Regions from separate parts of the Homo sapiens genome. Here all the other regions are linked to region 1. The links come from fine-mapping of genetic effects on gene expression. A gene starts in region 1. Each other region holds a variant in brackets. All regions are shown on one strand. Distances are between the middles of the regions.

Region 1 (4,239 bases):
CACCCATTCTTTTCAACGTGCTCTGAGCTTATCGAGTTCATCTCTGAATCTAACCAAGGTCACAGATGTAAATGCCAGTGGATGCCAGGCAGGTAAAAAATGAGTGAAGCTGATAGGGTATAAGAAAACATTTTCTTGAAATCTTCAGCTTCTTTCTCTCTATATATATATTTTTTCTCAATGTGAACAGAAATGTAAGTACAGGAAATATTTCACTTTTTCCTTAACTTCACTGAAAGAAAACACCATCATGAGTATAAATGGCAACTGTCACCTAATCTCCCCTTGGGGGACTGTGACAGAGAGTGGACGGTGGCAAACTAGAGTTCTTACTCCATTTGAAAGGGAGCTCAGCTCAGCTCCCTTTCATCATCACCCAGCTCCAGCAGGTCGGTAGCTGTCATGTAGGAATTCAGAATTAGTGTTACCAGGTCTCCCAATTTTTAACATATATAAATAATAATAAATAAATAATACGGAAATTTGGATTTTGTGTGGAAGTCTTCCAATTTAAAAATTCTGGCAACAGATTCAATAATTTTTCCCAAACACTGCGCTGGCCAAAAAATAATGTGTCTGCAACTCAGCTGGTTTGCAACTCTGCTCTCAGCTCTCCTTCAAACTGTCTCCCCCGCCTCAGTCCCCCAGAATCTGCAGATCCTCCCCCATCCTCCCGATGGTCCTCCAAGGTCAGCATTCAGGATCCTCAAGGCCAGCCCCACTCCTGCTGACCCCCCTTCTCTGCAACCCTGCGCGGACACTCCGGTTGGCTCTCCATCCTCCACTGCCTCACTCAGCGGTTACCTAACCTCTCCAGGTGTTTGTCCCGGCTCGCGCCTTACTCATTCCTCCAGGTCCCTCTCCAGTCACCAGCGACGCTTGTCAGTTCTCACTAAATATCCCGGGCCGAACAAAGTAAACTGGACCCGATAAAGCACCTCCAAGGAGTAAAAGGAGCAGAGCCTCACACTCGACACGGAATCCCGTCGTGGTTCCAACAACCCGAGCCACCCCAGGGCCGGGCCCTGGATGGACTTGTGCACAGAGCTCCCCCCACGAGCGCGTGGGACCCTGGGGTGCCCGCGGCCTTCCACGCCGGCAGAACAGCAGGGCTCGATGGTGGGGGATGTTCGGAGCGACCAGAAGCCGCGCCGCGCCACCCGGCCGGCCTCCGAGCTGTTTGCGATTTCCTCTCGGGGCTCCTCGTCCTCCTCCCCCTCAGGCCGCCCTCGCACGGCCGCCCGCCTCCACGGGCTTCACCCCTGCCCATCTTCCCGCACACGGGGCCGGGCGACCCTCCCACCTCAGCCCGGGATCGCGAACGGCTAGCGGGTGTCGCCAGGCGGGGAAACGCCGAGGCCGCGGCCGCTCCGGTCCCCCTCCCAGCCGCCGGTTCCCGGGCGCGGCCCCCGCCCGGCCCCGCCATCGCCTTGGCCCCGCAACCTCTCACCCGCCGCGCGGGTCCCGCCCGCGGCCGTGGCCGCCCCCGCCCGCGCCGGCCCGGGCCCTCACCCGCGACAGGGTGAGGTCGGTCATGAGCTGCTCGAAGGCCCGCGTCTCCTCGGCCTGTCTCTGCGTGTGCAGCGCGATCTTCTCACTGAACTTCCGCGGGTTGGCGCTGCCCGAGCCCGGCGAGGCGGCCATGGCGCGGACTCTGCGCGGGCAGAAGCGGGAGACGGCGGCCGTGGGGCCTGTACCTCGGCCCACCCGTCCGTCCACAGGCCGCCGGGGCCGCCGCCCGAAGCCAGTCGTCCGGCGCGACCCGGCAGAGGAGCCGCCGCGGCCCCGGAGCCAGCGAGCGGCCGGGAGCGCGCCGAGGTCCGCCCCCGTGCGCCCGGCCCCGCCCCACCCTCGGCGGGGCCCGCCCGGCCTCCAGTCTGCCCCGGCCCCACGCTCGCGGGCTGAGGGCTGCTCCCCGCTTCCCGGTCTGGCTCGGGACCCGCCGCCGGCGGCCACCTGGAGGGACCCCCGTCAGCCCGACAAAGTGGCCCCGGCGTACGGGGAACGCTGGGGTGCCACTCCACGGAGACTCTCCGACCCAGGGATGGCCTCTGCGTCTACGCGACGTGGAGAACACAGCCTGTGCCCGCATCCCCCCTCCCCCAGCCAAATTACGAAGATTTTCTTCTCCAGGTGGAACCTGGGCGACCGGACCTCGAGCAGGTCACCTCGGGCCCCCGCAGGGGGTGCGCCCATTTTGCCTGGGGCCTAACGTCTGCCCGCCAGCCCTGCCGCTCCAGGCCCCCGGCCTCCAGCCGCTGGTTTCCTGACCTCTCACACCCACCCCTCCCCGCTCCAGTCAACCAGAGCTGTATCTCGGCTTTAAAAACTGCCTCCTATTCTGCACAAACTACAAACACCATCCAGCCCTGCTGCAGCCTTGGCTCCATAGCCCCGGCCCCCTTTCCAGGTTCTTTCCAAGTCTCCCTACGGCCTCTCCACTCCTGTGGCAGCTTCAGCAGGTGCCAGCCCCACCTTGGGAAACCAGCGCTCAGCCTCAGCGAATTTCCCCTTCTTTTGGGGGAGTGAATGGATGTCTTTCTCTGTCGCCCGGTCTGGAGTGTAGTGGTGCGATCTCGACTCACCGCGGCCTTGACCTCCCGGGCTCAAAAGATCCTCCCACCTCAGCCTCCCGACCAGCTGGGACCACAGGCGGGGGTCACCACGCCCGGCTAGTTTGTAAATGTTTTTGTAGCAATGGGGGGCGGGGGTGGGTCTCGCTATTTTGCCCAGGCTGGTCTCGAACGCCTGGGCTCAAGCGATCTGCCCACCTCAGCCTCCCAAAGTGCTGGGATAACAGGCGTGGGCCACAGTGCCCGGGGAGTTTCCTCTTTGGAGTCCAGAAGCTACTCTCAGCATAAATGTTGATGTGCACAAAGATGTCCCGGGGAGCCCTGAGCGTGTGTCAGTGTTCTGTAAAGAGGGAAATATTAGAGGCCTACGGAAGAGTACGGAAAATAATATTAATACTACCCACGCCCCCCACTATCAAGATTAAACAGACATCAATACATTTTGCTGCATGTACTTGGGATTTATTAAAGACATACAAAATTAGTCATAACGACGGCCCCACTCTCATTTCTTCTTCCGCCCCACAGATAGTCACCGTGCTCAAGTTGGTACATATCATTCCAGTTTGTGTTTTTATACTTTTATTACATATGATGTAGAGATCCAGCAATGCTATATGGAATACCTAATTTTGTTTTTAAACTTTACAAAAATGACACCATACTGAATAATCATTTTGCATCTTTTTTCATTCTCCATTATGTTTTCGAGATATATTTGTGTCAATTCATTTATATGATAATATTCCATTATGTTTTTCACCTGTCTCTCAGACATAGCCTATAACTGGACTTTTTAGAAAATGTATTCTGAAAATATATCTCTGTTAGCTAGAATTTAGCTATTTTTATTAATTATAATTGGATTTTTTTTTCTGTTGTATTTTGTGTTATTTACCATGCTTTTTTTTTGTTGTTGGTTTGTTTTTGAGACGGAGTCTTGCTCTGTTACCCAGGCTGGAGTGCAGTGGCCTGATCTCAGCTCACTGCAAACTCTGCCTCTTGAGTTCAAGTGATTCTTGTGCCTCAGCCTCCCGAGTAACTGGGATTACAGGCTTGCGCCACCATGCCCGGCTAGTTTTTTTTTTTTTTTTTAAGACAGAGTCGCGCTCTGTCGCCCAGGCTGGAGTGCAGTGGTGCAATCTCGGCTCACTGCAATCTCTGCCTCCTGGGTTCAAGCTATTCTCCTGCCTCAGCCTCCTGAGTAGCTGGGATTACAGGTACACGCCACCACGCAGGCTAATTTTTTGTATTTTTTGTAGAGACGAGGTTTCACCATGTTGGTCAGGCTGGTCTCAAACTGCTGATCACAGGTGATCCACCTGTCTCGGCTTCCCAAAATGCTGGGATTGCAGGCGTGAGCCACCGCGCCTAGCATTTTTCTTTACATTTTATTTCTGCTTTTCTGTTACATTGTTTGGGTCAAGTTTCAGAGAACAGAACCATTCTAGATGGTTTAAGTACAAAAGAATATATTACAGGGTATAAAATGACTTCCAGACTTGTTTGGAGGGCTGAAGCAACCGACTCCAGGTTGAACTTTGAGGAATGACTTTGAGAGCTATGCTGCAATACTGAGCCACCAAAGGAGACACTGCCTCTTTTGAAATCAGGAAGCCATCTACTAAATTGGAAAGCTGTCTCTACACTTACCAGCTCTTGAACC
Region 2 (4,239 bases), 52 kb before region 1:
GTGAGGCTCCCAGCTGTTCTGGGTTTTGGAAGGCTTTTCCCCCAGCAGCCTGCCAGCACTACACTATCTTTGGGGCTAGTCTATTCCAGTCTCGCAGAAGTGATTAGACTTTCAGAGCCCTTGAACCACCTAGATGGGTTTTTTGTTTGTTTTTAACCTGGAGGCTATGCCTTTTTTGACCAGCTGATCTGGGGATCCAATCTTCTCCAAAGGACCAAATAAGTCTTGCTGTGAGGCATGAAAAGAAGAGATGAAGAGCAGAACAGACCAGAGAAGGCACCAGCACCCAACCTGCTGATTTAGGACCTGGCCTATCACCATGTCTGTGGCCCTTGTGTTGCCCCTTCCTAGTCTGTATTTTTAAATGAAAGATAAAAGGGAAGTAAAGTTAACAGATAAACTAAGTTAAAAGGTGACTCCAGAAAATGATAGAGATAAAACAGTTTTGGGGTTGTTTTGTTTTTAGCAGGTAAAGTCAAAATCAGACCAATCAAAATGATCACAGAGGGCCAGGCAAAATAATTTCTCAAAATAAGAAATAATGGCTGGGTGTGGTGGTGGCTCACACGTGTAATCCCAGCACTTTGGGAGGCCGAGGTGGGAGGATCGCTTGAGCTCAAGAATAGGAGGCCAGCCTGGGCAACATAATGAGACCCCATCTCTAAAAAAAAAGAAGAAGAAATAACGACAATGCATAAAACACGCCCAGAGTTCATGCTGGGGGATCCTGCTCAAGAAAAGGCAGAGAATAAGGTCTATGTCTCAGGCAGAGCTTCTCACCTGGAGAAGATGGATCATGTTCATTCCCTGACCCTGATGGAGCAGGCTGTAAGCAGTGAGACCTCCCCCAGCATCTTCCCTCCAGCATTTGCACAGCGTCAGCCACACAGTGGGCTCCAACACGTGTTTGCTGAATTACATAATGTTTCTAAATGATTTGGCTCCAAAGAGGAATGTGTACCCCCAGGGGATTTACAGGATGGCATAGGGTATGGGGAAAACATTAGAAGTTCTGTTTCCACTTAGCTTTCTATTTTTTTGTATACTTAATATTAACAATACAGTGTTATATGTACATAATTTAAAAAACAAAGAACATACCCAAATTGGGGATATAAAACTCTTTTTACTACTAGGCTGCATAATCAAAAAGTTTAAATGCAAAGTGTTGATCGTTATTAAAAACTGGTGAGGGCTATATGGGAGCTTCTTATTCTACTCCTACTTTTCTGTACAGCTACAAATTTCCACGATAAAATGAAGAATTTCAGCTTCAAGTTCTCAGGGATGGCATAGCAGGGTGAATGCAGACCCAAGCCTCTAAAGGCACTTTACTGTCTTTCCACAGAGCGCCACCCAAGCCTCCACAGAAGTAGAAGTTTTAAACTGCCTGTTCCCATCCCCACCTCCCCACCTGGTGTGATATCTTTGGGTGGTGAGGGAGGCCTTCCGTTGAGTGTAGTTCTCCTTTTAACTTTAATGCTAATAAGACAATGACTAGAGAAATATGTTCTGGGTAAATCAGGTTTGCCCATTTATCTCCTCCAGAGGAAGCTGATTTGCTTCTTATGGTGATAGAAAGGAACTGCAGAAGGGAAGAACTGGCTTTTGATCAACTAAGACTTGAGCAGTGGCAGGAGTCCGGCCTAGTGGCTGGTAAGGCAACTGGCCAAAGGCACCCTTGGAGGCCACAAGGGTCAGGTAGGCACTTCAGGCCAAGCAGGAAAGGAGACAAAGTGCCTGAGCCTCTGTTCATCCCACACCAACCTCTTCCTGCCGTAGGAAATATATGTAAAAGACAGGCACCTGTCAGCCTGCCGACTCCCTCCTTTCACCCCCACTGCATTCTGAATCACACCAGATCCACCGCTGTGATTCAACTTGGTAGGACACTTCACTGAGTTTAGAAGAGATTGTAATTTGGAATTAAAAGAGAAAAAACAAAGGGGAGGGGACAGATGAAACAAGAGTGGCAAAATGTTGAAAAATATTGAATCTGGTGATGAGTCTATGGGGGTTCTTTATTCTACTTTGGGGAAGATTTTACATTTCCAAATAACAAGTTTGATTTTTTAATTAAA[G/A]TTATGATACTGTCATAAATTAAAGGTGCCTTTTCAGTTTTAACTCAATAACTTCTACATATATGCCAAAAAAAGAGATGAAGGCTGTGTTTTCTACCATACAGCCAGCCAACAAAACAACTTTTTTTCACACTGTTGATAACTTTAAAGGACAAAATAAGCATACGATGTCACAAAGGAACTAGGAAAGTATAAGAGAAAACATGTCTGGAAAGAATAAAATGCTCTGGAATATTTAGTTAGATAAAGCACATGGTAATTCTAAATAAAGCATATTGAATTTTTAAAAAAACTTACATCCTGTTTTTTATTTAAAAGAGCATAGGGTACTTTTCCTCATCTGGCCACTAGCTCATGAAAAGACACACACAGTGTCCTTGTCCTGTTCTGTCTGGACTCATAAGCCACAGAGTTTGGAATGATCTTCCGGGCCAGCCAATGCAACCAGACAGCATCCTCACCAAAGGCCATCTAGCCGCCACCAGACCCCTCTGAAGATGGGAACGGAGTACTTTCCCAGGCAGGCCACTCCTTTCTCATCCAGCCATGCTTCTGATATGTTCTCCCTTAGGCTGAGCTGTAAAGTGTTCCTAAGCATTCACTATCTCTTGGGAGAATCTGCCCAGATGAGAGGTTGCTAAAAATTCATCATGGTTTAAACAGCAGAAAAATACAAAAATAAATTTTTTTTTTTAATTCATCATGGTAAGAACTTTAGTCTCCATAACGAACCAAGCTACCAAAAATGGAAGAACTGGTCCCTGAAACCAGATTCTCCATTTAATCTCAGTTAAAGCCATAACTGGATCTGGGCGCTTGTTTGGAGACTGAGTTGGTCTGGCATTCCTTTTGTCAAACAAACAGAAAAACCAGTGGGCCGGGTGCAGTGGCTCACGCCTATAATCACAGCACTTTGGGAGGCTGAGACGGGTGGATCACCTGGGGTCAGGAGTTTGAGACCAGCCTGGCCAGATGACGAACCCCATCTCTACTAAAAATATAAAAATTAGCTGGGTGTGGTCATGCACGTGCCTGTAATCCCAACTACTCTGGAATCTAAGGCAGGAGAATCGCTTGAACCCAGGAGGCAGAGGTGCAGTGAGCCAAGATCACGCCACTGCACTCCAGTCTGGGTGACAGAGCGAGCAAGACTCGTCTCAGGAAAAAAAAAAAAAAGAAGAAGAAGAAAAACCAGCGGGACTGACACTAAGGAAGCCTATTCTTCCTATCTGCAAGTCCCCACTTTTGCCTACAGACAGGGGAGGGAAAACTAACCACTCTGTGAGCCTTAGGAGTTACTGAGGAGTAAAGGTCATAATGCTATCCTCTCCTGGCTCCCGGCTTCAGTGCTGAACCTTTGAGAACCCAGACAAGGGAACAGTGATTAACCAGCTTCCTCAGTCTCCAGAAGAATAACATATATAGTTCATTTGAGGATTTATGGGAACTCAGATTAGGCATAGTCCTAACTAAACTGGAGAGTCTCCTTACCTGGTACCCTAAAAAATAAATAAGGAGAAATATTTATTAGTGAATGTGATTATTTTTGTGGGATTTCAAAGTTTTGAAATATTTCCTCTTTTTGTATTTCTTCTGATGTTCCTGAGTGGGGATGTGCAATCAGCATGTAATATAAAACTAGAGATTAAAAGTAAAATACGTGTCTGGGCAGGTGGCTCATGCCTGTAATCCCAGCACTTTGGGAGGCCGAGGCGGGTGGATCACCTGAGGTCAGGAGTTCAAGACCAGCCTGGCAAACATGGTAAAACCCTGTCTCTACTGAAAATACAAAAATTAGCTGGGCATGGTGGCGGGTGCCTGTGCTCCCAGCTACTGGGGAGGCTGATGTAGGAGAATTGCTTAAACCCAGGAGGCAGAGGTTGCAGTGAGCCAAGATTGTGCCATTGCACTCCAGCCTGGGTAACAGAACAAGGCTCTGTCTCAAAAAAAAAAAAAAAAAAAAAAAAAGTGAAATACGTTTACTCCATGTAATCATTCAGACACATGCTCTAAAATCACAATGAAATTTACAGAGAAATGCTAAAGAATTTTTTCCCAGGGGAAGGGGACAGCCAGTGTGAGGCTTTTGCCTATGACACAATAATTACTACCCCATTTCCTCTTTCCTTCCCTATAAACCAGCCTTAGAGCCCACTCG
Region 3 (4,239 bases), 180 kb after region 1:
CGAGAGGAGGCGTAGAAGAGCCAGGAAAAACTGTGAAAGGACTTCAAGGAGCATGAAAAGACAGAAAGACTTCAGCACTTGCTATAACTGAATTTATTTATTTATTTATTTATTTATTTATTTTGAGACAGAGTCTTGCCCTGTCGCCCAGGCTGGAGTGCAATGGCACCATCACAGCTCACTGCAACCTCTGCCTCCTGGCTTCAAGCGATTCTCCTGCCTCAGCCTCCCAAGTAGCTAGGATTACAGGCGTGCACCACCACGCCCGGCTAATTTTTTGTATCTTTAGTAGAGACGGGGGTGTCACCATGTTGGCCAGGCTGGTCTCGAACTCCTGACCTCAGGTGATCCACCCGCCTTGGCCTCCCATAGTGCTGGAACTACAGGCGTGAGCCATCGCACCCTGCCAGAACTGATTTTTTTAAAGAGAGAGTCTATCATTATCTATTGCTGTGTAACAAATTACCCCAAAATTTATTGGTTTAAAAAACCAAATATTTGGTTTTTGTGCTCCCAGCTGTTTGGAAAAGCCGCCGGTATTTCTCCACCTGGCTCTCCTCTACCTCCAGGCAGGCGCACCCGAGGTCCCCCTCCCACCCCACCTTCTGCCCTCCCGCACACTTGGACCAGTGCTGTTGACCCGGAAGCGGACATTTCTGCAGCTATTCTAAGCACACGTCGGCGGAGGGAGCGGGACGTGGCCAGCGGTCAGCGGCGAAGGAGGCAGGCCCTGCGCGGGGATCACGGAAGCCCTGTGATTCACCATGAAGTTCCAGTACAAGGAGGTCCATCCCTTTGAGTATCGGAAAAAGGAAGGAGAAAAGATCCGGAAGAAATATCCGGACAGGGTCCCCTTGATTGTAGAGAAGGCTCCAAAAGCAAGGGTGCCTGATCTGGACAGGAGGAAGTACCTAGTGCCCTCCGACCTTACCGATGGCCAGTTCTACCTTTTAATCCGGAAGAGAATCCACCTGAGACCTGAGGACGCCTTATTCTTCTTTGTCAACAACACTATCCCTCCCACTAGTGCTACCATGGGCCAACTATATGAGGACAGTCATGAGGAAGATGATTTTCTGTATGTGGCCTACAGTAATGAGAGTGTCTATGGGAAATGAGTGGTTGGAAGCCCAGCAGATGGAAGCACCTGGACTTAGGGGTAGGGGAGGGGTGTGTGTGTGACTTGGGGAAAGAGAGGGCGGCTCCCACCGTGAGGAGACAGAAGGTGAAGACATATAGAAACTTTACACCGCACACACCGTCAACGCATTTTCACATGCTCAACTGATATTTTTTGTTGCTTCCTTGGCCCAGGGAGAAAGCATGTCAGGACAGAGCTGTTGGATTGGCTTTGATAGAGGAATGGGGATGATGTAATTTTATGGCATTCCTGAGATTTAATTTTTGTGCAGTTTCATAGAAAGGTCGGTCAGGAGGTGGACAAGTTGGGGTCAGAGATGATGGCAGTCCAGCAGCAACTCCCTGTGCTCCCTTCTCTTTGGGCAGAGATTCTGTTTTTGACAGTTGCACAAGACAGGTAGGGAAAGGGGACTTGTGGTAGTGGGCCATACCTGGGGACGAAAAGAGACCCACTGTAATTGATGCATCGTGGCCCCCGATCTTCCGTATCCCACACTTCTTTTCTCCCATCCCAGTTGCAATCTCACTCACAAACATCACAGTACCACCCCAGGGGCGGCAGTAGACACCA[A/G]CCCAGAAATTTAGACAGGGATCTCTTATCTTTGGAAAATAGGGGTTAGGCATGAGGGTGGTTATGATTAAGAAGATAATTTTGTTGTTAAATAGCATTAAACTGGAATTGACAGAGTGAGTTGAGCATCTCTGTCTAACCTGCTCTTTCTCTCTGGTGCTCCTCATCTCACCCCTACCTTGGAATTTAATAAGCTTCAGGCATTTCCAATTGCAGACTAAAACCACTTCTACCATCTCCTCTAGTATTTTCCATGTATCAGGACAGAGATGTCTTATGTAGGGAAGGGGCAGGTATGAAGTGAGGTAGATTATCTATACCTCTCACTCATTCAGGATTCTCGCTCCCATGCTGCTGTCCCTTCATTCTCACACTCACAGGAATGCTATGTGATGGCCAGCTGCTTCCCTTCTTGGTTATCCACTGCAGCTGCTAGTTAGAAAGGTTTGCAGGGATGACTTTTAGTAAATCATGGGGATTTTATTGATTTATTATCACTTATAGGATTTTGTGGGGTGGGAGTGGGGAGCAGGAATTGCACTCAGACATGACATTTCAATTCATCTCTGCAAATGAAAAGGGTTCTTCCTCTTGGGGGAAATCTGTGTGTCAGTTCTGTCAGCTGCAAGTTCTTGTGTAATGAAGTCAATGCTGTCAGGCCAAGTGAAGGGAAAAGAGAGATCAGACTGTTACTGTGTCTATGTAGAAAGGAAAGACATAAGAGACTCCATTTTGAAAAAGACCTGTACTTTAAACAATTGCTTTGCTGAGATGTTGTTAATTTGTAGCTTTGCCCCAGCCACTTTGACCCAACCACTGTGACCCAACTTGGAGCTCACAAAAACATGTGTTGTATAAAATCAAGGTTTAAGTGATCCAGGGCTGTGCAGGACGTGCCTTGTTAACAAAATGTTTACAAGCAGTATACTTGGTGAAAGTCATCGCCATTCTCTAGTCTCAATAAGCCATGGGCACAATGTACTGTGGAAAGCTGCAGGGACCTCTGCCCTTGAAAGCGGGGTATTGTCCAAGTTTTCTCCCCGTGTGATAGTCTGAAATATGGCCTCGTGGGATGAGAAAGACCTGACTGTCCCCCAGCCCGACACCCGTAAAGGGTCTGTGCTGAGGTGGATTAGTAAAAGAGGAAAGCCTCTTGCAGTTGAGATAGAGGAAGGCCACTGTCTCCTGTCTGCCCCTGGGAACTGAATGTCTCGGTATAAAACCCGATTGTACATTTGTTCAATTCTGAGATAGGAGAAAAACCGCCCTATGGTGGGAGGCGAGATATGTTTGCAGTAATGCTGCCTTGTTATTCTTTACTCCGCTGAGATGTTTGGGTGGAGAGAAACATAAATCTGGCTTACGTGCACGTCCAGTCATAGTACATTCCCTTGAACTTAATTATGACATAGATTCCTTTGCTCACATGTTTTTTGCTGACCTTCTCCTTATTATCACCCTGCTCTCCTACTACATTCCTTTTTGCTGAAATAATGAAAATAATAATCAATAAAAACTGAGGGAACTCAGAGGCCGGTGCCAGTGCAGGTCCTTGGTGTGTTGAGTGCCGGTCCCCTGGGCCCACTGTTGTTTCTCTATACTTTGTCTCTGTGTCTTATTTGTTTTCTCAGTCTCTTGTCCCACCCGACTAGAAATACCCACAGGTGTGGAGGGGCAGGCCACCCCTTCACCAAGGAAATGAAATAATTGCTTACCTTAAAAAACAAAACAAAACATTTGCCAGGTGCAGTGGCTTATGCCTGTAATCCCAGCACTTTGGGAAGCTGAGGCAGGAGGATTGCTTGAGCCCAGGAGTTCAAGACCAGCCTGGGCAACATGGCAAGGCCTCGTCTCTACTAAAAATAAAAAAATCAGCTGGGTTTGGTGATGCGTACGTGTAGTCTCAGCTACCTGGGAAGCTGAGGTAAGAGGATCACTTGAGCCTGGGGAGATTGAGGCTGCAGTGAGCCAGGATGGCACCACTGCACTCTGGCCTGGAAGACAGAGTGAAACCCTGTCTCAAAAAAAATTATTTTATTTCTGTTGATTAGGAATCTGGAACAGCCTAGGTGAGTATCTCTAATTGAAGGTCTCTCACAAGGTTGCAGTCTAGACACTGGCTGGGACTACAGTTATCTGTAGGATTGACTGGGGCTGGATGATCAGCTTGCTCCCAAGCTCCCTCATGTGACTGTTTCCTCACGTGTAGCTTCTCCTCACAACGTGTCAGCTGGCTTCCCCAGGGTGAGTGATTGAGAGAAAGAAGCAGAAGCTGCAATCTAACCTTGGAAGTGATAGACCATCATTTCTGCCATACTCCTTTGGTCACACAGACCAACCCTGGTACAGTGTGGGAGGGGACTACACAAAGGTATGAATACTTGGAGGCAAGGATCACAGTGAGTGTATTAGTCTGGGTTCTCCAGAGAGAAAGAATCAATAGGATATATAGATATAGAGAACCAGGGAAGCCAGTAGTGTGAGTCAGTTTAAGTTCAAAGGCCCAAGAACTTGAGGGGCTGCTGGTG

Direction of the effects. Positions count from the first base shown, and alleles are read on the strand shown. Sizes are in standard deviations (SD) of each study's normalised expression. Not every link is listed here.
With allele A in place of G in region 3, the expression in unexposed skin of the gene that starts at base 1,793 in region 1 is higher (small effect, 0.18 SD a copy in GTEx).

Evidence for each region. PIP is the estimated chance that this variant, and not a neighbour inherited with it, causes the effect.
Region 2: its variant is the best candidate, but not a certain one, in a credible set for the expression of CRTC3 in tibial nerve (GTEx, PIP 0.88).
Region 3: its variant is the best candidate, but not a certain one, in a credible set for the expression of CRTC3 in unexposed skin (GTEx, PIP 0.85).

The regions. Positions count from the first base shown.
Region 1 is chr15:90,527,477-90,531,715 of GRCh38, reverse strand. It overlaps CRTC3 (CREB regulated transcription coactivator 3), which reads right to left and starts at 1,793. Exons shown (of 15, transcript NM_022769.5): 1 at 1,513-1,793. The coding sequence starts at 1,644. RefSeq lists an enhancer at 690-849 and silencers at 1,240-1,419, 1,440-2,189, 2,290-2,339.
Region 2 is chr15:90,579,445-90,583,683 of GRCh38, reverse strand. All of the region lies in intron 2 of CRTC3 (CREB regulated transcription coactivator 3), which reads right to left. Among named protein-coding and RNA genes, the nearest start is that of CRTC3, 52 kb to the right of the region's middle. RefSeq lists an enhancer at 1-359. The variant G/A (reference allele first, on the strand shown) is at 2,082.
Region 3 is chr15:90,345,723-90,349,961 of GRCh38, reverse strand. It overlaps the pseudogene GABARAPL3. Among named protein-coding and RNA genes, the nearest start is that of ZNF774, 4.4 kb to the left of the region's middle. The variant A/G (reference allele first, on the strand shown) is at 1,712.